4 separate regions of the Homo sapiens genome follow, and regions 1, 2 and 4 are each linked to region 3. Evidence: fine-mapped expression QTL. A gene starts in region 3. Each other region holds a variant in brackets. All regions are shown on one strand. Distances are between the middles of the regions. Region 1 overlaps LOC124900647 (nascent polypeptide-associated complex subunit alpha, muscle-specific form-like). Region 2 has its middle 12 kb from the start of NKX1-1. Region 3 holds the start of RNF212 (ring finger protein 212). Region 4 has its middle 49 kb from the start of RNF212.

Evidence for each region. PIP is the estimated chance that this variant, and not a neighbour inherited with it, causes the effect.
Region 1: its variant is fine-mapped to the expression of RNF212 in aorta (GTEx, PIP above 0.99). The same link has a PIP of 0.9 or more in coronary artery and spleen.
Region 2: its variant is fine-mapped to the expression of RNF212 in tibial nerve (GTEx, PIP above 0.99). The same link has a PIP of 0.9 or more in subcutaneous fat and tibial artery.
Region 4: its variant is fine-mapped to the expression of RNF212 in whole blood (TOPMed, PIP above 0.99).

What each region holds. Positions count from the first base shown.
Region 1 is chr4:1,146,296-1,151,443 of GRCh38, reverse strand. All of the region lies in intron 1 of LOC124900647 (nascent polypeptide-associated complex subunit alpha, muscle-specific form-like), which reads right to left. LOC124900837 (hornerin-like) reads right to left here. Exons shown (of 2, transcript XM_047416541.1): 2 at 1-4,894. The coding sequence ends at 3,284. Among named protein-coding and RNA genes, the nearest start is that of SPON2, 24 kb to the left of the region's middle. RefSeq lists enhancers at 685-1,185, 1,186-1,686. The variant T/A (reference allele first, on the strand shown) is at 2,914.
Region 2 is chr4:1,415,939-1,421,086 of GRCh38, reverse strand. No RefSeq gene overlaps it. Among named protein-coding and RNA genes, the nearest start is that of NKX1-1, 12 kb to the right of the region's middle. The variant C/T (reference allele first, on the strand shown) is at 2,126.
Region 3 is chr4:1,111,122-1,116,269 of GRCh38, reverse strand. RNF212 (ring finger protein 212) reads left to right here and starts at 2,706. Exons shown (of 10, transcript NM_001131034.4): 1 at 2,706-2,914. The coding sequence starts at 2,806. It overlaps LOC124900647 (nascent polypeptide-associated complex subunit alpha, muscle-specific form-like), which reads right to left and starts at 2,631. Exons shown (of 3, transcript XM_047416477.1): 1 at 2,518-2,631. It overlaps LOC105374344 (a long non-coding RNA gene), which reads right to left and starts at 2,631. Exons shown (of 3, transcript NR_134676.1): 1 at 2,518-2,631. It also overlaps the pseudogene TMED11P.
Region 4 is chr4:1,062,224-1,067,371 of GRCh38, reverse strand. It overlaps a transcript of RNF212 not described here. Among named protein-coding and RNA genes, the nearest start is that of RNF212, 49 kb to the left of the region's middle. The variant A/G (reference allele first, on the strand shown) is at 3,026.

The DNA.
Region 1 (5,148 bases), 35 kb before region 3:
GCCAGGTGTGCACACGCTCAGGGCAGTGCTAATACACCAGCCCCCTGCTGCCTCAGCACCCTCCAGACTTTAAGCACCGAGAATAGGAGGGAAGCCAAGGGTGGGCTGAGGGTAGCTTGGCACTGGCCTGCAGGCACCCCTTGGCACCTATAGCCTGGACACCATGAATAGCAGCAGGACGCAGACAAGTTCCTGGGTGGAAGAGGGCAGGTCCCTGGTGAGGCCCCCACCTTCAGGCCAGGGAGGTCCTGAAGGCTGGGGACTGGGCTGCCAGTCCTGCAGACCAGAGTGGGAACTTCTGGTGCCTTTACCCATGACTGCCAATGTACCAATCACAGTGCACTTCCTCCCCTCTAAGGCCCATAAAAGCCCTAGGCTCAACCAGAGCTGAGCAGACATCAGGGCAACCAGATGCAGAGAGGAGCTACCCATTCCATGGCCTCCTCTCTGCTGAGAGCTGGGGAGACAACAAGAGGACCTGCCTGCAGAGAGCAACAGCCCACTCCAGGGCCTCCTCTCTGCTGAGAGCCGCAGGCACAAAGGGATGGCCCGTCTGCAGACAGGAGCAACCCACTCCAGGGCCTCCTCTCTGCTGAGAGCCTCAGAGATGACAGGATGGCCTGCCTGCCAAGAGGAGCTTCCCACTCTACGGTCTCCTCTGTGCTAGGAGCTGAACACGCGTTGTGACACCCTGGCTGTGGAAAGGAGCTGCCCCTGCGGGTCTCCTCTGAGCCGTTGTATCGCTCAATAAAGCTCGTCTTCCTCTTGCTCACCCTCCACTTGTCTGCAGACCTCATTCTTCCTGGTCACAGGACAAGAACTTGGGACCCGTCAAATGGCAAGGCTAAAAGAGCTGGTATAACACAAACAGGGCTGAGACATGCCCCTTGCTTGCCATGCTATGGGGGAAGAGAAGGAGAGAAGAGCTGCAGCCCTTCAGGGAGCCTAGACTTGGGAGCCCCCCAGGCCAGGAACAAGCAGGAGCCCTGCCCCTTCTGAGTTGGACTCCCTCTTTGGGGCCCTGTGGTTCCTGGCATACTGCATTCCCCAGTGCCAGCTGTGGAAGCTGCTTGCAGTGCACCTGGTCCAGCTGCAGCCTTGCAGAGAGTGGGCGCCCATGCCAGCACTGGAGCTGCCCACCTTGCAGCAGCTGCGGGTGTGCCTGACTGCACAGTGGCTGGACCCCATGCTCACTCACACACCCCTCACTGCTCTGTGCCTGACTCGCTCTTGGCAGGTGTGGGATCCAGGCCAGTAGCGTGAGTTGAGTGCAGCATGCCAGGCTGAGTGGGCAGAACAAGCCCAGTGGGCCCAAGCAAAACTCGGGCAAGGGTGCCACCAGCCACAGAAGTTTCCAGCTAGAAATGTGACACCCCAAGGATCCTCTGGCAAGCGGTCCCATCTGGCTGGAAGACCAGGGCCCACTGTGGCTGGCTCCCTCACCCAAGTCAGGAGCCTCTGGAGTCCTCCTTCCCACGGATGCTGCTGTCCACGCCTCCCTCCTCAGTTCCTGCCAAGGCTCTTCTCTGACTGACTGCTCCTCCTCACCTGGTCTTCCCAAGCCTCCCTACTCTCTGTTCTTCCCACTCAGCAGTCTCCTTAACCATCACCCTTGGGCAATTATTTAGATTTAGAGCTTGGCTACTTAAAACTCACTGTTATGGAAAACTTTGAAAGTGCATCAGGGCCAGGCATGGTGGTTCACACCTGTAATCCCAGCACTTTGGGAGGCCGAGGCATGTGATCACTTGAGGTCAGGGGTTCAAGACCAGCCTGGCCAACATGGTAAAACCCCGTCTCTACTAAAAATACAAAGAAGAAAAAAAATTAGCCAGGAGTAGTGGTGGACACCTGCAGTCCTGGCTACTTGGGAGGCTGAAGCAGAAGAATCACTTGAACCCAGGAGGCAGAGGTTGTAGTGAGCCGAGATCGCGTCACTGCACTCCAGCCTGGGTGACAGAATGAGACTCCATCTCAAAAAAAAAAAAAAAAAAAAAAGGCGCATCAGGCCACAGTTTTAACTTTTCTTTAAAAGAGAACAGTATGCCCTTAAAGTCCAAGAGCTACAGACTGGTCCTGGAAGCCATCCTGTGGGTCTGGTGCTCCTCACCCACTGCCCTGTGGTGGAGGAGCCCACACCTGCCCCACACCCTAGTGCCAAGGGAGCCTCTGCACTGGCGCTCTGGGGTGGCTGCTCGCCTTTTCCTTGCCGGGGAGCACAGCCCACAGCTGTCCATAGTGCAGGAACTACATCTCCACAACTGTATCCAATCATCCTTGTTCTGCCATCTGGGTCCACTCAAAATAAATACACATTTTTTCACCTGAAAGTCCGTCATAACTGAAGTCACAGATTCCACCCATCCCAGATTTCTCTTTGCAGGCTAACTCTCCTTAGTTGCCAAGTGCGCGGTTTTGCTCCAGTTTGTAACACACATGCGTGAAAGTATCTCGTTTGGGTCAAGCTAAGAGCTGGGAGCTGAAGACTCTGTAGGGCAAGACAGGCGAGCTCCCTGGGCCTGCCCCTGCCCCTGCCCCTGACTGCATTCAGCAAAGAAGCCGCAAAGCATGTAACCCAAGAAAGAAGAACTCACCGCTGACCCAGGACAGCCAGCCCAGAGGAGGCCGAGGGAGCAGGCTGTGGAGACTGAGGCAGGAGGGTGGAAGGCTCTGGCAAAAACGGGGGATGGGCATAAGACAAAAGAAGACTATTACTCAGACATGGAAAAACCGAGGACAGAAAATGGGCAAATCGTACAAGGAGAGAAAAGCAAACCAAACTCATCAAAACCAATTAAACAAACAACCACAAGTAAGTCATGGTCCAAATATGATGCCCTCAATTTCCCACAGATTGAGTGGTGCGAAGCTGGCTGGGGGGAGAGCCGGGATTGGCCTTTTACCTTGGCTGCT[T/A]TGGTCTACCAGCAGGCTGCTGGGACACAGGCCCTGTGCTGGGGGACGGGGATGGGGACAGGAGGATATCTGGGTCCCCTTCCCAGTTTCATGTCGCTCATAAAAGTGGTCATTTTGCTCTGTGTCAGCAGGGACACTTCCGGTTTGAAGGTGTATTAGGACTGAATGAGCTCTTTGAGGGCATGAACTCTTCTATTAACCTTTGTATCCCCAAAGCCTATTGCAGTGCCTGGCACATGTGGAGTGAGTGCTTTTAATCAGAACTGAACAAACTGCAGGATGAACTGTGGTTCTAAGACTTCCACACACATTGAGACGAATTTGAAAGTCAGATTCTAATTACAAGCATGCAGCCAGATGTGGATGCATCTCACTTCTTGACTTGGCTGAAAACTAACATACAAAAGCCTTTCTGAAATCCATTTCCATGATATCCACGGTGTTCTAAACTCTCCCTGTCAGTGCCATTTCCATGATATCCATGGTGTTCTAAACTCTCGCTGTGGGTGCCATTTCCATGATATCCACGGTGTTCTAAACTCTCCCCATCAGTGCCATTTCCACGATATCCATGGTGTTCTAAACTCTCCCCATTGGTGCCATTTCCATGATATCCACGGCGTTCTAAACTCTCCCCGTCGGTGCCATTTCCATGATATCCACGGTGTTCTAAACTCTCGCTGTGGGTGCCATTTCCATGATATCCACAGCGTTCTAAACTCTCGCTGTCAGTGCCATTTCCATGATATCCACGGTGTTCTAAACTCTCGCTGTCAGTGCCATTTCCATGATATCCACGGTGTTCTAAACTCTCGCTGTGGGTGCCATTTCCATGATATCCACAGTGTTCTAAACTCTCCCTGTTGGTGCCATTTCCATGATATCCACGGTGTTCTAAACTCTCGCTGTCAGTGCCATTTCCATGATATCCACGGTGTTCTAAACTCTCGCTGTCAGTGCCATTTCCATGATATCCACGGTGTTCTAAACTCTCGCTGTGGGTGCCATTTCCATGATATCCACGGTGTTCTAAACTCTCCCTGTTGGTGCCATTTCCATGATATCCACGACGTTCTAAGCTCTCCCTGTCGGTGCCATTTCCATGATATCCATGGTGTTCTAAACTCTCGCTGTGGGTGCCATTTCCATGATATCCACGGTGTTCTAAACTCTCGCTGTGGGTGCCATTTCCATGATATCCACGGTGTTCTAAACTCTCCCTGTTGGTGCCATTTCCATGATATCCACGACGTTCTAAGCTCTCCCTGTCGGTGCCATTTCCATGATATCCATGGCGTTCTAAACTCTCCCTGTCAGTGCCATTTCCATGATATCCATGGTGTTCTAAACTCTCGCTGTGGGTGCCATTTCCATGATATCCACGGCGTTCTAAACTCTCCCTGTCGGTGCCATTTCCATGATATCCACGGCGTTCTAAACTCTCCCCGTCGGTGCCATTTCCATGATATCCATGGCGTTCTAAGCTCTCCCCGTCGGTGACATTTCCATGATATCCACGGCGTTCTAAACTCTCCCCATCGGTGCCATTTCCATAATATCCACGGCGTTCTAAACTCTCCCCATCGGTGCCATTTCCATGATATCCATGGCATTCTAAGCTCTCCCCGTCGGTGCCATTTCCATGATATCCACGGCGTCCTAAGCTCTCCCCATCGGTGCCATTTCCATGATATCCACAGCATTCTAAACTCTCGCTGTCGGTGCCATTTCCATGATATCCACAGTGTCCTAAGCTCTCCCCGTCGGTGCCATTTCCATGATATCCATGGCGTTCTAAACTCTCCCCATCGGTACCATTTCCATGATATCCATGGTGTTCTAAACTCTCCCCATCGGTGCCATTTCCATGATATGCACGGCGTTCTAAGCTCTCCCTGTCAGTGCCATTTCCATGATATCCACGGCATTCTAAGCTCTCCCCGTCGGTGCCACTTCCATGATATCCACGGTGTTCTAAGCTCTGTCAGTGTCACTTCCATGATATCCACAGCGTTCTAAGCTCTCCCCATCGGTGCCATTTCCATGATATCCACGGCGTTTTAAACTCTCCGTCAGTGCCATTTCCATGATATCCACGGCGTTCTAAACTCTCCCCATCGGTACCATTTCCATGATATCCACGGTGTTCTAAACTCTCCCCATCGGTGCCATTTCCATGATATGCACGGCGTTCTAAGCTCTCCCTGTCAGTGCCATTTCCATGATATCCACGGC
Region 2 (5,148 bases), 300 kb before region 3:
CCATCACAATCCACCATGTCAACAGACGCAACGAGAGAAGCCATATGAGCCTATGGATACGGAAAAAAAATGTGATAAAATGCAACATCTGTTAATGATTTTACAAATTTCTCAGAAAATTAAGAATAGGAAGGAACTTCCTTAACCTGGAGCTATTATAAAATGTTTTTGAATTTTTAGGATTTAATCACTGATCGTGGGTATATAGAAATTAGATTGACCTTTTTCAGGCTTTTTCTCTGACCTTGCTGACTTATGAATTCTGGGTGCTTTTTCCTTGGGATTTTCTACGTAGATAATCATGTCGTCTGTATGCAGGGCTAGTTTTATTTTTTCTGTTTCAATATGTTTACATTTTATTTCTTTTTCTTGCCTGAAATATTTACAGGTGAAGCAACTTAATGTCTGAAGGTATATTTTAAGATTCCAGAATAAAGGTGTGGCTTTGGATACACAAAACCATATTGACACCAAAATGTTGACAGATGTTGCATCTGAGTGACAGGTCCCAGGAAGCTGATCTTACTCTGCGCTGTATTTTTGTGTGTGTTTGAAATATGTTATAGTAGAGGGTACTTTTTTTTTTTTTTTTGAGATGGAGTCTCCCTCTGTCGCCCAGGCTGGAGTGCAGTGGCGCGATCTCAGCTCACTGCAACCTCTGCCTCCCAGGCTCAAGCAATTCTCCTGCCTCAGACTCCCGAGTAGCTGGGATTACAGGCACCTGCCACCACGCCCGGCTAATTTTGTATTTTTAGTAGAGACGGGGTTTCGCCAGGTTGGCCAGGCTGGCCTCGAACTCCCAACCTCAGGTGCTCCGCCTGCCTCGGCCTCCCAAATTACAGGCATGAGCCACCATGCCCAACCCAAGGTTACTTTTTAACCTATTGCCACCCACAAAACAACCTCAATAGCTGACCAAATGGAAAAAAGACAGAGCTCACAAAGAAGACAAAGTTCACAAAAAAAAAGAAGCTACGTGGCTAATATTCATGAGGGAAAATGTTCCTTCTCACCAGTGTCCACAGAAATGGCAACCGCCACAGAAGGAGGCGGGGATGCCACCCTGTGAGATGGTGCCCATGCCAGTGACGCCGGAGACGTTACCCAGCCTTTAGGAATTCCCTCCCTTTAACCCAACCCATCACTTCTGGTGTCTCCTAGAGGTGAACTCAAGTCTAAACAAGAATCTACACAGCAGTGGTTCCAGGCACAGAAAGCCAGACTGCCTAGGCACACGGATGGACGGCTCACGCCCTCCGTGTGACAGGGTTCTATGGGACCGGTAAGAACCTGTGTTACGAAGTCTGCTATGACAACGAGAAATGCCTAGGATACAAGGGGGGGCCAGCATCCAAGTGCCCAAGGCTATAGGTGCAGCGCCCACATTTATGGTTTTTTTTTTTTTTTTTGAGACAGAGTCTCGCTCTGTCACCCAGGCTGGAGTGCAGTGGCAAGATCTCGGCTCACTGCAACCTCCACCTTCTGGGTTCAAGCAATTCTCCTGCCTCAGCCTCCCGAGTACCTGGGACTACAGGTACTCGCCACCACACCCGGCTAATTTTGTATTTTTTTTTTTTTAGTAGAGATGGGGTTTCACCATATTGGTCAGGCTAGTCTCGAACTCCTGATCTCAAGTGATCTGCCCGCCTCGGCCTCCCAAAGTGCTGGGATTACAGGCGTAAGCCACAGCACCCGGCCAACATTTATGTTTTTAGGAAGCAGAAAACGAGATGAGAGGAAAGCAGAAAACGGCAAGGTGTGAGCTGGGCCGTCGCTGTGCTGTGGGTTATGGGAGATGCTGCTTCTCCTCTGTGCTTTTTCACGAGCACGTGTTACTTTGATCACTAGAAAAGGCAACGGTTGTCTACAATCACTGTGAGGGCAGGATGTCCTCACAGACACCTGGCAGGGTTCGGCCAGGTCAGCAGGAAGCCCAGGTGGCATCCTCGTCACAGCTGGAAAGAGATACCGTCACGACCAGCCCCCCTCGCTGGGATCACGGGGTGTGGTCCTGGGTGGTGTCTGTGTTCACATTCCCTTATTCATCCCCAGCCCTAAGCTGCCTCCCACATCTGCCGTGTTGGGGAGGTGGAGGAGGAGACATGGAGCCTCACCCCACAGCCTC[C/T]TCAGTGTGATGACAAATGGGCACTTGGATAGGGGCTGGGAGGACTGACGTAATGGGGCATCCTTTGGTGAGGCAGCCACCAGGACCTATCTCGAGTATTGACCCCAGGGCACATCAAAAAAATTAAGTTCAGTAATTTGCTGGGTGAGGTGGAGGCTTCTGTAGTTCCAGTTAGTGAGGAGGCTGAAGTGGGAGGATCATTTGAGCCTGTGAGTTCCAGGCTGCAGTGAGCCGTGACTGCGCCACCGCACTCCAGCCTGGGCGACAGAGTGAGACCCTGTCTCAAAAAGCAAACAAAAGTTATCATTGGCCCAGCACTTTGGGAAGCTGAGGCAGGAGGATGCCTTGAGCCTGGAAGGTCGAGGCTGCAGTGAGCCAAGATCTCTCTCCTGCACTCCAGCCTGGGTGACAGAGTGAGCCTACCTCTAAAAAGAAAAAAAAATTATGGCAGAAATTGCCATGTAATGAAACAAGCAACAGAAAGTGCATGCCAATGGTGAAAGTTTTATTGAATTTATATATTATTAGTAAAAAAATTAACTACGTATTATAATGCAAAATCGGAAAAAGGGAATGGGTTGATGCTTTTTAATGACATGAATGTCATAAATATTTCCTTTTTGGAATCATTTTAGATTAACAGCAAAGCTGCGAGGAGCATGAGAGAGCACCCACCTACACCCCACGGCAGCCCACATTCACCTCTTAAGTCACCCCCGGACATTTGTCAAAACTAGGAGAGCGGCATCGCCACACACTATGAAGCAAACTACACACCCTCTGGGATTTCACCGACTTTTTCCCCCACGAATGTCCCTTCTGTCATCCAGGGTCCAGTCCAGGACGCCAAACTGCTCTCGGCATGGATGTATTTTTAGCAGAAAAAGGCGCTTGAAGAAACATGTCCGAGGGAGTAAGTGCCGCGAGGCGTGCGGGCAGCCTGCGCCTGGAAGAACAGGGTGGGAGGCACCAAGTTCTGCAGCTTGGTCTCTGCGGCCACTGTGCCATCTGTTTATTTTGAACCTACTGTTTACACAAAGGAACGAGTGGGACCTGGGGTGGGGTGGGGACAGGAGCTGAGCTTGAAATTGAACCGCGCTCCCAAACCACAGGCCTCCTCTCAAAATGGACGCGTGTGGCCGCATCGGCAGGCCACAAGCAACTGTGAACCGGGATTCTATAGACTCGCTTCCGTGTAGGGCACACACTTAGCAAAGGACATTTACATGCTCATATGCTACCTGTCCACATGCACACACCCGGCAGTACCCACAGCCGCCACTGCAAGCTTTGACCGTCAAAACACATTCCTGGGCAGGAGTGTTGGTCACGGACATTGTTCAGAAGCACGTCTCTTGTGGTGGGAGGAAGCAGGCAGCCCGTTTGTTGCTTTCACTTTTTTTTTTTTTTTTTTATATGGAGTTTTGCTCTTGCCCAGGCTGGAGTGGAGTGCAGTGGTGTGATCTTGGCTCACCGCAACCTCCGCCTCCCGGGTTCAAGTGATTATCCTGTCTCAGCCTCCCAAGTAGCTGAGATTACAGGCAACCACCACCATGCCTCGATAATTTTGTAATTTTAGTAGAGTTGGGGTTTCTCCATGTTGGTCAGGCTGGTTTCGAACTCCCGACCTCAGGTGATCTGCCCACCTCAGTCTCCTAAAGTGCTGGGATTACAGTCATGAGCCACAGTGCCTGGCCTCACTATTGTTTTAAATTCCCTACAGACAGGGTGCCCACTGCCCGGCCACCATGCCCAGAGACAGTGAGGAGGACCTGGGCCATCTGGGCAGGGGATCGGCCTGGCCTGACAGGGAAGGGGTGGTGTGGAGTTTCAAACAGCGAGCCAGCCCCGCTGAAGCCCCCTGGATCCCCGCCAGGAGGTTCCAAAGAACCTCAGGCTGCCAGAAGACAGGTGCGTCTGAGGCCCACAGCTACTGGGCAGGGCAGACTCACTGGGCCGCACCTCCAGGCCCCCACTAGGAAGCCCAGCAAGGGAAGGGCTGCATTCACCAGAGCCACTTGCAGGCACCAGGCTGCCTGCAGCACTGAGGACGAGGGGGAAAGCAGCCGCCAAGCTGCAGTGTCTGTGATGTGTGATGTCTTCAGATTTCACCCCAGACCACCATGTGTGTCCTGATTTTGGGCATGGGACAGCAGCACTCCTGAAAGGCACACGACCCGGGACTGCGGAGCCAGTGTGGGTCCTCCATTCCACCAGCAAGTCAATACATCCTGCACTGGGGGGCAGTCTTGGCGGGCATAGGGGGTTGACCAGGGCAGCCAGGATCCAGCCTCTCTGAAGAGCTAATGTCAGAGCAGAGAAATTCATGTCAAAGAGAAGATGAAGAGGAGGTGACTTCAGAACAAGGGGACAGCCAGTGCGAAGGCAGCTGGCCCGCTCACCCCTCAGGCAGCAGGGAGGCCGTGCGGTGGGGTCGTGGGAGCCAGGAAAAGGAGAGGAAGGGTGGGCAGGGCAGTCCCGGCCGGCCCCATGGACTCTGGCTACCGGCATGGGTTTCAGTCTCTGAGTGTGGGGTGGTGGTGGAGGAGCTCGAGGTGAGGACTGGACTCCACACATGCAGGGAATGGTCCAGCCAGGCCCTCACTTCAGAGAAAGACAGGAAAGCCGGAGGGGGACAGGGGCCCTCCAGGCCCCAAAAGAGAGCCAAGAACGTGGGCACCTGCCCCCCCGCCCCCCGGCCAAGTCTGCAGCTGCAGGCCAGCAACACAGGCGGGCGGGCCCTCCACCCCAGTCTCTCAGTTCCGCCCTCCGCCCCAGCCTCTCAGTCCCACCCTCCACCCCAGCCTCTCAGTCCTCCTGGCCCGCTGAGGGCCCCACCTCAAGCAACCCTGCCTGACGTGCCCACTGGCTGCGTCCGAGGAAGCTGGGCCATGCTGGGCCTGCTGGTGGGGACGAGGCCAGCGAGGCGGGCAGCAGTATCCCAGGCCTTCGCAGCACCTGTCCCCAGATTAGATTTCCCCTTTCTCATTACCACCGTAATGGGTCCTTCAGACCTCATTCCA
Region 3 (5,148 bases):
CAAAGGGTCAGTCTGCCTATTCAACTTATTTTATCTCTTGCTACCAGCAACGCATTTCTCAACACAAAGCCCCTGGACCAAGGAAAGAGTGAACTGCCTGTTCCTCACTTTCTCTCTGAGGTAGAACGGTGTGGATTCACAGGGACTAGAGAGAGCAATTTTTCTTCACTCTGTCGGCTGGACTATGAACTCCTCTAGGAAACAGAATTTCAGTTCATTCATCTTTTTATGCCCTGTGCCTAACGAAGTCCCCAGTAGCACAGGGTGTGAGCTTGCAGAATGAATAAATGCTTCCAAATGCATCCCATGTATTTGTAGAGGCTCACGTATGCTCACTTTCCAAATCACAATTTTATTCTTATGACATTAGGTGCTTTTTGAGTCACTACACTAAGTGGATATTGGTCAGATATGGGCTTAAATCTCAACTACCTGTCAGTAATCTGTGTCATCTCTAAGCTTCAGTTTCCTTAACAGGAAGATAAGGACAGGTGTGACAAGCAAATAAGGCATGCAAGTGCTTGGCCTAATGCCTGGCATAAAGGCTGGACTCAAATGATGAAATCTACCACTATTGGGTAATATTCGCTTTGCCTGATGGTAGCAAATAAAATATACGAATAGGTCAAATTCCTGATATTTTACACCAAAATACAAAACCATCTTTTATAAGGTTGATTTTTACTCTCTTATACTTGGCTAAGCAACAGATTCTGGTTTAGAAAAGCAGACTGCACGGATACGTTGGTGTAAGATATTAATTGGGTAATATTAAATACCTTGAATGCCCACAACAACCCTCCCCTCAAAATCGTGAGTTAAGTACTTTATGACACTAAACCTACTTCTTTTCCGCATAGGACCGTGAAGAAAATTTTCGAACGACCAGTGAAGATACAAATAGCAATGTTTTATGGTGGGCTTTTGCACAAATATTAATCTTTATCTCAGTCGGAATTTTCCAAATGAAGTACCTGAAAGACTTCTTTATAGCTAAGAAGATTGTTTAAAATATTATCAATAAGGACAAATAATCTGCATAATGTTTGAGTTAATAAATCAAAATACCTGCATATATGTGTATTATTTTTATGATTTCAAAGATACCAGAGATTGAGATTAACGTTATATCATTATAACATTGAGAGAATGCTTTTATAATGCAGCTTCTGAATTTGATAGATTAGGCACCTCATCCTATTCTTAAACTTATTTTTGAGACTGAGTCTCGCTCTGCTGCACAGGTGCCGTCAGGCTCACCACAGGCTCGATCTCCAGGGCCCAAGCAATCCTCCCACCTCAGCCTCCCGAGTAGCTGGGACCCCAGGGGCCCACCACCACACCCAGCTAATTTTTGTATTTTTTGTAGAGACGGGGTTTTGCCACGTTGCTGGTCTTGCTATTTTAAACTTGGTAGAGATCAGCACTGTCTAACAGAAATAAAAGTGGGCTACATACATAATTCTAATTTGCTGTTGTTGTTGTTGAGACGAAGTCTCACTCTGTTGCCCAGGCTGGAGTGCAGTGGTGTGATTTCGGCTCACTGCAACCTCCGCCTCGTTCAAGCGATTCTCCTGCCTCAGCCTCCGGAGTAGCTGGGATTACAGGCGTGAGCTACCGCACCCAGCCCATACGTAATTCTAAGTTTTCTAGTCTCCACATTGAAAAGGATTTTTTGAAAGGGTAAAATCAACGCTACTGATATATATTTAACCTAATATATCAAAAATATCATGTTAACATGTAATCAATATAAAATTACTAAGAAGGTTTTCATACGAGGCCCTGGAAACAGCTGTATTTTACTCACATCTTTCGGGGCGCAGGGGTCACTTGGCCCGTAGCTACCGGGAGCGCTCACCCTGCGCTCTCCCGGCACAAGCACTTGCCTGAGCCTCTCGATCCGAGCTTTGCAGCGTCCCAGCGGGTGGAAACTCTCAAAACCACGCAGAGGACAATTTTATAAAAAGTCACTTCCCCATGCTGGAACCTGGAAGCAGCAGAGGTCCTTCCCGAGCTACGCCTTCCGTTTCAGAGGGAAGCAGGCTCAGGCCTCCCGTGCTGAGGTCTCTGCGCCAGCGGCCACCTGGACACTAGTCCCAAAGCGTGCAGCGCGGCCTGGCCCCCACCCCCAACTGCCCCCCCCACCCCCACCGCCTCATCACACCCCACCCCCACCGCCTCACGCCCCCACACCCACCCCAACTCCCACATCCCCACTCCCGCTCCCACCCCAACTCCCACACCCACTTATCCCTCCCTCCCTCCTATCCCGCTCCCCGGGCCCCCAGGGCCCCCACGCCCACTCTCCCCTACTCCTCCCCTGCCTCGCCCAGCGCACTACCCTGGCCGCCCTGGCCTCCGGCCCAGCTCCCGGCCCTCAAGGTGGGCCTGGCCCGCATCCCCCGCCCTCGGCGCTCCCCCTCCCCCTCCCCCACTGCTGTCGCGCCGCGACGCCTCCTCAGCGCAGCCGCCATTCCCCGCGCCCGCCACCCAGGCCCGGCTTCCACAAAACACCTGAGGACCGCCAAGACAGGGGCGGGACGTTGGTGCTCGCGGTGCGTTCCTCCGCCTACTCCAGCCCAAACGACCTGGGAGACGAGTCACACGCGCCCTCCCAGGTGCTGCGGGAGAACCCGCGAGGTTGGCGGGAGGGCGCGAGCTCCAGTGCGCGGGCGCAGGGCTGCCGTCGACTTTGCGCAGGCGCAGAGCTGCCCGCCTTCGGGCCCTGCGCGGGGAGGCTGGTCCCAACCTTGCGTGGGCTTCGCGTGGGCCCGGCCTCGCCGCTGCGGTCGCCCGCCTGGCATGGCCAACTGGGTGTTCTGTAATCGCTGCTTCCAGCCGCCCCACAGGACGTCGTGCTTCAGCCTCACCAACTGCGGGCACGTGTACTGCGACGCCTGCCTCGGCAAAGGTCAGGGCTTCCCGAACGCAGGCTGGAGAGGGGAGGGGAGCGGCAAGGGGGTCAGGGAACTCCGGGGGATGGGGGACTTGGGTGGGAGGGCCATGGGGGCACGTGGGGGGCTGCGGAGGAGAGAGGGCGCGTGGAGAAGGGGGAGGGGGCAGGGGGAGGGGGATGCCAGGGGAGAGGCCGCGAGGAGCAGGGGAACTCTGAGGGGAGGGGGACCTGGGGTGGAGGGGCCGCGGGGGCGCGTGGGGGGCCGAGGGGGAGAAACGGCGCATGGAGCGGGGGGGGCATGGGGGGGTGAGAGGCCGCGGAGGTAGGGGTATTCGGAGGAGGGGCCACCGGGGAGTGGGGGCCGCGGGCGTGATGAGGGGCCCGTGGGGAGAGGGGGACACTGGAGAAGCGGTGGGGAGGGAGCGGGGGAGTGAGGGGCTGCGGGAGGGTGGGGAAAGAGGGGACGCCGGAGGTGGTGGGGGGCTGCAGGGAGGAAGGGGACGCCAGAGGAGGGGGGCAAGGTGGGGGATGTGGGGGGTCAAGGCTTGGGGGGGAAGGGGGATACCGAGGAGATGGGGGGAGGGGAGACGCCAGGGGAGGAGGGCGTGGGGGAGGGTCCGCAGGCAGGAAGGGGCCGTGGAGGGGAGGGGCCGCCGGGGGGAGCGGGATGCAAGATGAGGGGGACACAGGGGTCGGGCCACGAGTCCTGTCAGTCGGGGGCTCTGGCTTGCAGGCTGCGGGTCCGCCTGGAGGACCTGGGGGAGAAGCGGGCAGGCGGCAACCTTAACGCCAGTGGAGGACTCTGGCCCTATTCCATGGGCAGCGCGGGGCCCTGGTGTCAAGTGGACAGTCGCATTGTCAGGGAGGCGTTTTTCTTTCTGTGAAAATTTTGTGTTGAACTGATGTTTATGCAAGAACAAAAGCAAAAACACAGTGAGCTTTTACCAAGCGAACTTCCCCGTGAAAGCAGCCAGCTGGGTGCCGGTGGCTCACAGCCCTCCAGCCCCAGGGGACGCCAGCTGTGCTGACCTCCATCCTCGGAGTTGGCCTTAGACCCATGGAGCCTTAGTGAATGCAGCCCTACAACCAGCCCTACAGCAAAGCCGCTTTCTGTGGCTCCCCATCTTTCTTCCTTTTTCTCCCTTCCTTCTCTTTGCCTCTTTCAAGGCAGAGCTCAGCTTTGTCGCCCAGGCTGGAGTTCGGTGGCGGGATCTCGGTTTACTGCAGCCTCCGCCTCCCAGGCTCAAGTGATTCTCCTACCTCAGCCTCCAGGGTAGCGGGGCTACAGGCATGTGCAGCCACGCACCCCTGATTTTTTTAATTTTTCACAGAGATGGGGTCCCTTTGTTGCCCAGGATGGTCTCCAATTCCTGTCCTCTAACAATCACCGGCCTTGGCCTCCCGAAATGTGGGATTAGCAAAGTTTATCATTGTATTTGTATGTAACTGTAGTTCATCTACTTTCATTGTTGTGTGGTGTTCCATTGTATGGATACACCCCAAGTTACTCATCGTTTCCACTGTCCATGGCCCTTTGGGTTGTTTGCAGATTTGGCTGCAGAAATAATGCTACTGTGAATCTTCTTGCTCCTGTCTTCGGTGATCTTAGGTACACATTTCTGTTGGGTGTGTAACCTGGGAGTGGAGTTGTTGATTTCAGGTGTGTATTTAAAAACAAAAGTGTCTCGGGCAGCGAGGTGAAAAGTAGATTGGAGGGAGATAGAAACTGTGGGAGAGACTGCAGCTGAGCACATGAGAGGTGATGGGGAGAAGTGATAGGTTCAGGAGAAGTTAGGTAGATTCAGCAGACATGAGTCGGAGACAAGGGCTAGAGAACTGGACAGGGTTTCACTGCTAGACAAAACACTGGAGAGGAGCCCAGCGGGAGGGAACCCAGCAGGGTGGGGCACAGCAGGGTGGGGTGCAGGGCCCCTGAGCTCATGTCTGGACACGGCCTGTATCCTGTGAGAGCCATCCAGGGGAAGACAAGAGGCAGTTGCACATGTGGGTCTGGAACTCAAGACAGCCAGGAACACATTTGGGGAGCGATTAATACGGGATAATAATCCTATAATCCTAGATATTGGAGTGTGGAGAGCCCCAAAGGTGAAGGAAACTAGAAGAGACTATCTTGTTGGAAAGAGCATTTGTTGAAGGAGGTAAAGAAGATGTCAGGTAAAAAAGAGATGTTGATGAACTGGACATCCCAGTGAAGTCAAGGAATTGGTGTTTGAAAGTGTCCATTGGAC
Region 4 (5,148 bases), 49 kb after region 3:
TATATAATTATTAATTTTGTGGTTGGATTTGTGCCTGCTGTCTTGCTGTTTTTTGTTTTATATATGACAGGATTTTTAGTTTATCGGTATCTCCTTAACTGCCTTTGTTTGCAATAAATATTTTTATCATACCATTTTGCTATAGACTGATTTGAGTCCCCCCAAAATTCATATGTTGAAGCCCTAACCTCCAATGTGACTATATTTTGAGTTAGAACCTTTAGGAGGTAAAGTTAAATTAGCCCTAAGCCAATAAGATTCATGTCCTCAAAACAAAACACACTATTCAATGGAGAAAGACACTATTCAGTGGGGGAAAGGACAGTTTTTTTGAGAAATGGTGTTGGGAAAACTGGATATCCACCTGCAGAATAATGAAGTTGGACTCCTTCCTAACACTATGTAGAAAAGTCAATTCAAAATGGATCAAGGACCTAAAACTAAAAAATATAAAACTCTTTTAAGAAAACATAGAGCAAAAGGTTCACAATGTTGGATGTGGCAGTGATTTCCTGGATATGATACCAAAGCACAGGCAACAAAAAAAAAAATTAAACAAATTGACCTCATGAAAATTTTAAATTTTTCCACATCAAAAGATACTATCAATAGAGTAAAAAGGCAACTTGCAGAATCAGAGAAAATATTTGCAAATCATATGTATCTAATAAGGGATTACAATCCAGAATACATAAAGAACTAAAACTTAACAACGAACAACCTGATTCAAAAATGGGCAAAGCCTGGGCGCAGTGGTGCACACTTGTCATCCCATCACTTTGGGAGACCAAGGCAAAAGGATCGCTTGAGCTCAGGAGTTCGAGACCAGCCTGGGCAACATGGTGAAACCCCCATCTCTACAAAAAAACTTAAAAAGTAGTTAGGCATGGGGGCACACACCTGTAGTCCCGGCTGCTCAGGAAGCTGAAGTGGGCGAATTGCTTGAGCCTGGGGGGCAAAGGTTGCAGTAAGTCGAGATTGTGCCACTGCACTCCAGCCTGGGTGACAGTGTGAGACCCTGTCTCAGAAAAAAGAAAAGCGGAGGGCAGCAAATGACTTGAATAGGCAAAGTACACAAATGATCAATAAGCACATGAAAAGATACTCATCGTTCATCGTTAGAGAAATGCAAATCAAAACTATAGCAAGAGCTGGGTATAGTGGCTCATGCATGTAGTCCCAGCTGTTCAGGAGGCTGAGGTGGGAGGATTGCTCGAGCCAAGGAGATGGAGTCCAGCCTGGGCAACATAGCAAGACCTCATCTACAGAGAAAAAAAAAAAACAGCAAGATAGTATCTCATTAGGATGAGATAAACAGCCATTAGGATGGCTACTATATATTTAAAAAATCGCACCTGTAGTCCTAGCTACTTGGAACACAGAGGCAGGATTGCTTGAGCTCAGGAGGTCAAGGCTGCAGTGAACTATGATTGCATCACTGCACTCCAGCCTGGACGACAGAGTAAGATCCTGTCTCTTAAAAACAAAAACAGGCCGGGCACGGATGTCTGTAATCCCAGCACTTTGGGAGGCTGAAGTGGACAGATCACTTGAGGTCAGGACTTCAAGACCAGCCTGGCCAACATGATGAAACCTGTTTCTACTAAAAATGCCAAAACTAGCCAGGTGTGGTGGCACACACCTGTAGTCCCAGCTACTTGGGAAGCTGAGAGGCCGAGGTGGAGCTGAGCCTAGGAGTTCCAGACCAGCCTGGGCAAAACCCCCTCTCTACAAAAAATTATCCAGGCTGGTGGCGTAAACCTGTGGTCCCAGCTTCTCAGGATGCTGAGGTGGGAGAATTGCCTGAACCTGGGAGGTCAAGGCTGCAGTGAGCAGTGATCATACCACTGCACCCCAGACTGGTTGACAGAGTGAGACCCTGTCTCAAGAAAAAAGAAAACGAGAGAGGAGAATGGACAAAGAAGTAATCACATAGTTGAAGTCTGTGGATGCAGCTTTCCTCAAAGTATTTTTATGAAGATGGTTAAACCTGAAACAAACTTCAGAATTATTTGGTCTGCAGATGTTTTCCTTTAAATAAATGTTTATTGTAATCATTTTTAAAAACCCAAAATAACAAGTGTTGTTAAGGACGCGGAGGAATTGGAAGCATGTGCACTGTTGGTGAGAATGTGAAATGGTGTGGCTGCTGTGGAAAACAGTGTGGCCTTTCCTCCAAAACTTAAAAACACAATTCCCAGATGATGCTGCATTTCAATTCAGTACTCAAAAGGATTGAAAGCAGGGTCTCTAAGAGATGCTTGTATACCCAAGATCGTAGCAGTATTATTCACAGTGTCTAAAACATGGGAGCCATCTAAGTATCCATCAGATGAATGGATAGGCACAATGTGTGTCTCCGTACAGTGGGCTATGATTCAGCCTTAAAATGGAAGGAAACTCTGGCACACGCTACCGCGTGGATGAACATTGAGGACGCTATGCTAAGTGCATAAGCCAGTCGCAGAAACACAAATGCTGTGTGAGTCCATGTGTGTGAAGTAGTCAAGATCGTAGAGACGGAAAGTAGGATGGTGGCTGCCAGCGGCTGTGGGATGGAGGGGTGGGAAGCTCTCGTTTAATGGGAGTTTCACAAAATTTCAGTTTCACAAAATGAAAACAGTTATAGAGATGGGTGGTGTGATGGTTGCACAGCATCAGGAATGTATTTAATACCAGTGAACTGTACACTGAAAATGGTTAAGGTAGGAAACTGTATCATCATAAATTTTCAAAAAACAAAAGAGACACCAGGGAGCTTGCTTACTAACTCTGCACACACACAAAAGAGGCCGTATGAAGACAGAGTGAGAAGGCTGCTGTCTGCAAGCCAGGACCCCCATCAGCCAGCATCTTGATGGACTTGCCAGTCTCCAGAACTGCGAGAAATAAACTTCTGTTGTGTAAGCCACCCAGTCTGTGGTATTTTATTACAGAAGCCCAAGCAGACTAATACACGTTTTAGTTCTCCTGTTGATACTTTATCTGTGTGCTTTATTATTTCAGTGATTCCTCTAGAGATTAC[A/G]ACATGCATCTTGAACTCACCACAGTGAACACTCACTGAGGTGAACACCGACTGAATTCCAGTGGAACGTAACCACATTGCTCCATATAGCTCCGCTTCCTCCCACCTGCTTTGTCATATGTATTTATGTACATATATATGGGATCTATGTGTTATAAATCTAACAATATGGTGTTGTCATTATTTCCTGAATTAAACTTATGTTTCTTAAAGACCTTAAGAGGAAAAAAATCTTTTATTCCATCATTCACAACATATTAACCATTTCCAGTTTTTTCTTGCAGGGAAGATTGGCTAGAAGTCAGTTCTCTTCATTTTTTTTTTCCATATTTGAATGTCTTTGTCTTCATTTTGAAGGATAATTTCACTGAAGATACATTTTCTTGGTTGACTTTTTAGCACTTGGTATATATGTCATTCCTCTGTCTTCTGGCTTCCATTATTATTAATATTGGTTTTTTTCATTTTTTTTTTTTTGAGACTGGGTCTCTGCCACCCAGGCTGGAGTGCAGTGTCTTGACCATGGCTCACTGCAGCCTGGACCTCCTGGGCTCAATCAATCCTCCCACCTCAGCCTCCTGAGTATCTGGGACTGTAGGCATGCACCACCACACCTGGCTAATTTTTCTTTTTTCTTTTTTTTTTTTTTTTTGAGACTGAGTCTCACTCTGTTGCCCAAGCTGGAGTGCAATGGTGTGATCTCACTGCAACCTCCACCTCTGGGTTCAAGTGATTCTCCTGCCTCAGCCTCCTGACGAGCTGGGATTACAGGTGCGCACCACCACACCTGGCTAGTTTTGTAGAGATGGGGTTTCACCATGTTGGCCAGGCTGGTCTCAAACTCCTGACCTCAGGTGATCTGCCCACCTCGGCCTCCCAAAGTGCTGGGATTACAGGCATGAGCCACCGTACCCAGCCATTTCCATTATTTCTGATGAGAAGTCAGCTGTTAATCGTATTGTCCTGTAGGTGATGAGTTGCTCTTCTCTTGCTGCTTTAAGTATTTTTCTTTTTGTCTTTCACTTACTAAAGCTTTATAGTAACTTTTGAAATTATGAAGTGTGAGTTTTCCAACTTTGTTCTTTTTTGAGATTGTTTTGCATATTTTGAGTTCCTTGCATTTCCATATGAATTTTAGGATCAACTTTCCCATTTCTGCTGACAAAGCAGGTTGAAATCTCGGTAGAGTTTTAATTCACCTTGTACATCAATGTAGGGGGTATTGCCATCTAATACTAACACTGCATCTTCCAATCCATGAATGTTGGACATAGCTTTACCTTTATTTAGGTCTTTGATTTCTTTCAACGGTATTTTGCAGTTTTCAGTGAAGAAATCTTGCACTTCATTGGTAAAATTTATTCCTAAGTATTTTGTTATTTTGGTGCTACTATAAATAGAATTGTTTTGTAACTTTTATTTTCAGGTTTTCATTGCTAGTATGTAGAAATACAACTGATTTTTATAGATGGATCTTGTATCCTGCAATCTACTGAGTTTATGAGCTCTGGGGATTTTTTTTGTGGATTCTCTAGGGTTTTCTGTATATGGCAAATCATGTCATCGGCAAGTGGAGGTTGTTTTACTTTTTCCTTTCCAACCACGATGCCTTTTATTTATCTTTTACTTTTATTTTTATCTTTTCACTTCCCGTCCCACTGCAGGACTTTCATTTGTTTTTCTCGCCTAACCGCCCTCTCTGGAACTTTCAATACAGTGTTGAATACAAGCGGCAAGAACAGACATCCTTGTCTTTGTTCTGTTCCTGATCTTAGGAGGAAACTTTCAGCCTTTCACCATGAAGGATGGTGTTCACTGAGGGTTTCCTGGAGGCGCCCTTTATAGGGTTGAGAAGTGCCCTTCTAGTCCTTTTTTGTCATGAAGAAGGGTTAAATTTTTCAAGTGCTTTCTCTTTCTCTTTTGAGATGATTATTGGGTTTTGTTCTGTTACCATGATGTGTTCATAGATGTAATTACTTCCATTGATAGAATATATTAATATGGTGTTGATTTCTGTATGTTGAAGGAACTGTGCATTCCTGAGATGAATCCCGGTTGGTCGTGGTGTATGATCTTTCTTATACGCTGCTGGATTTTGTTTGCTGGTATTTTGTTGAGGAATT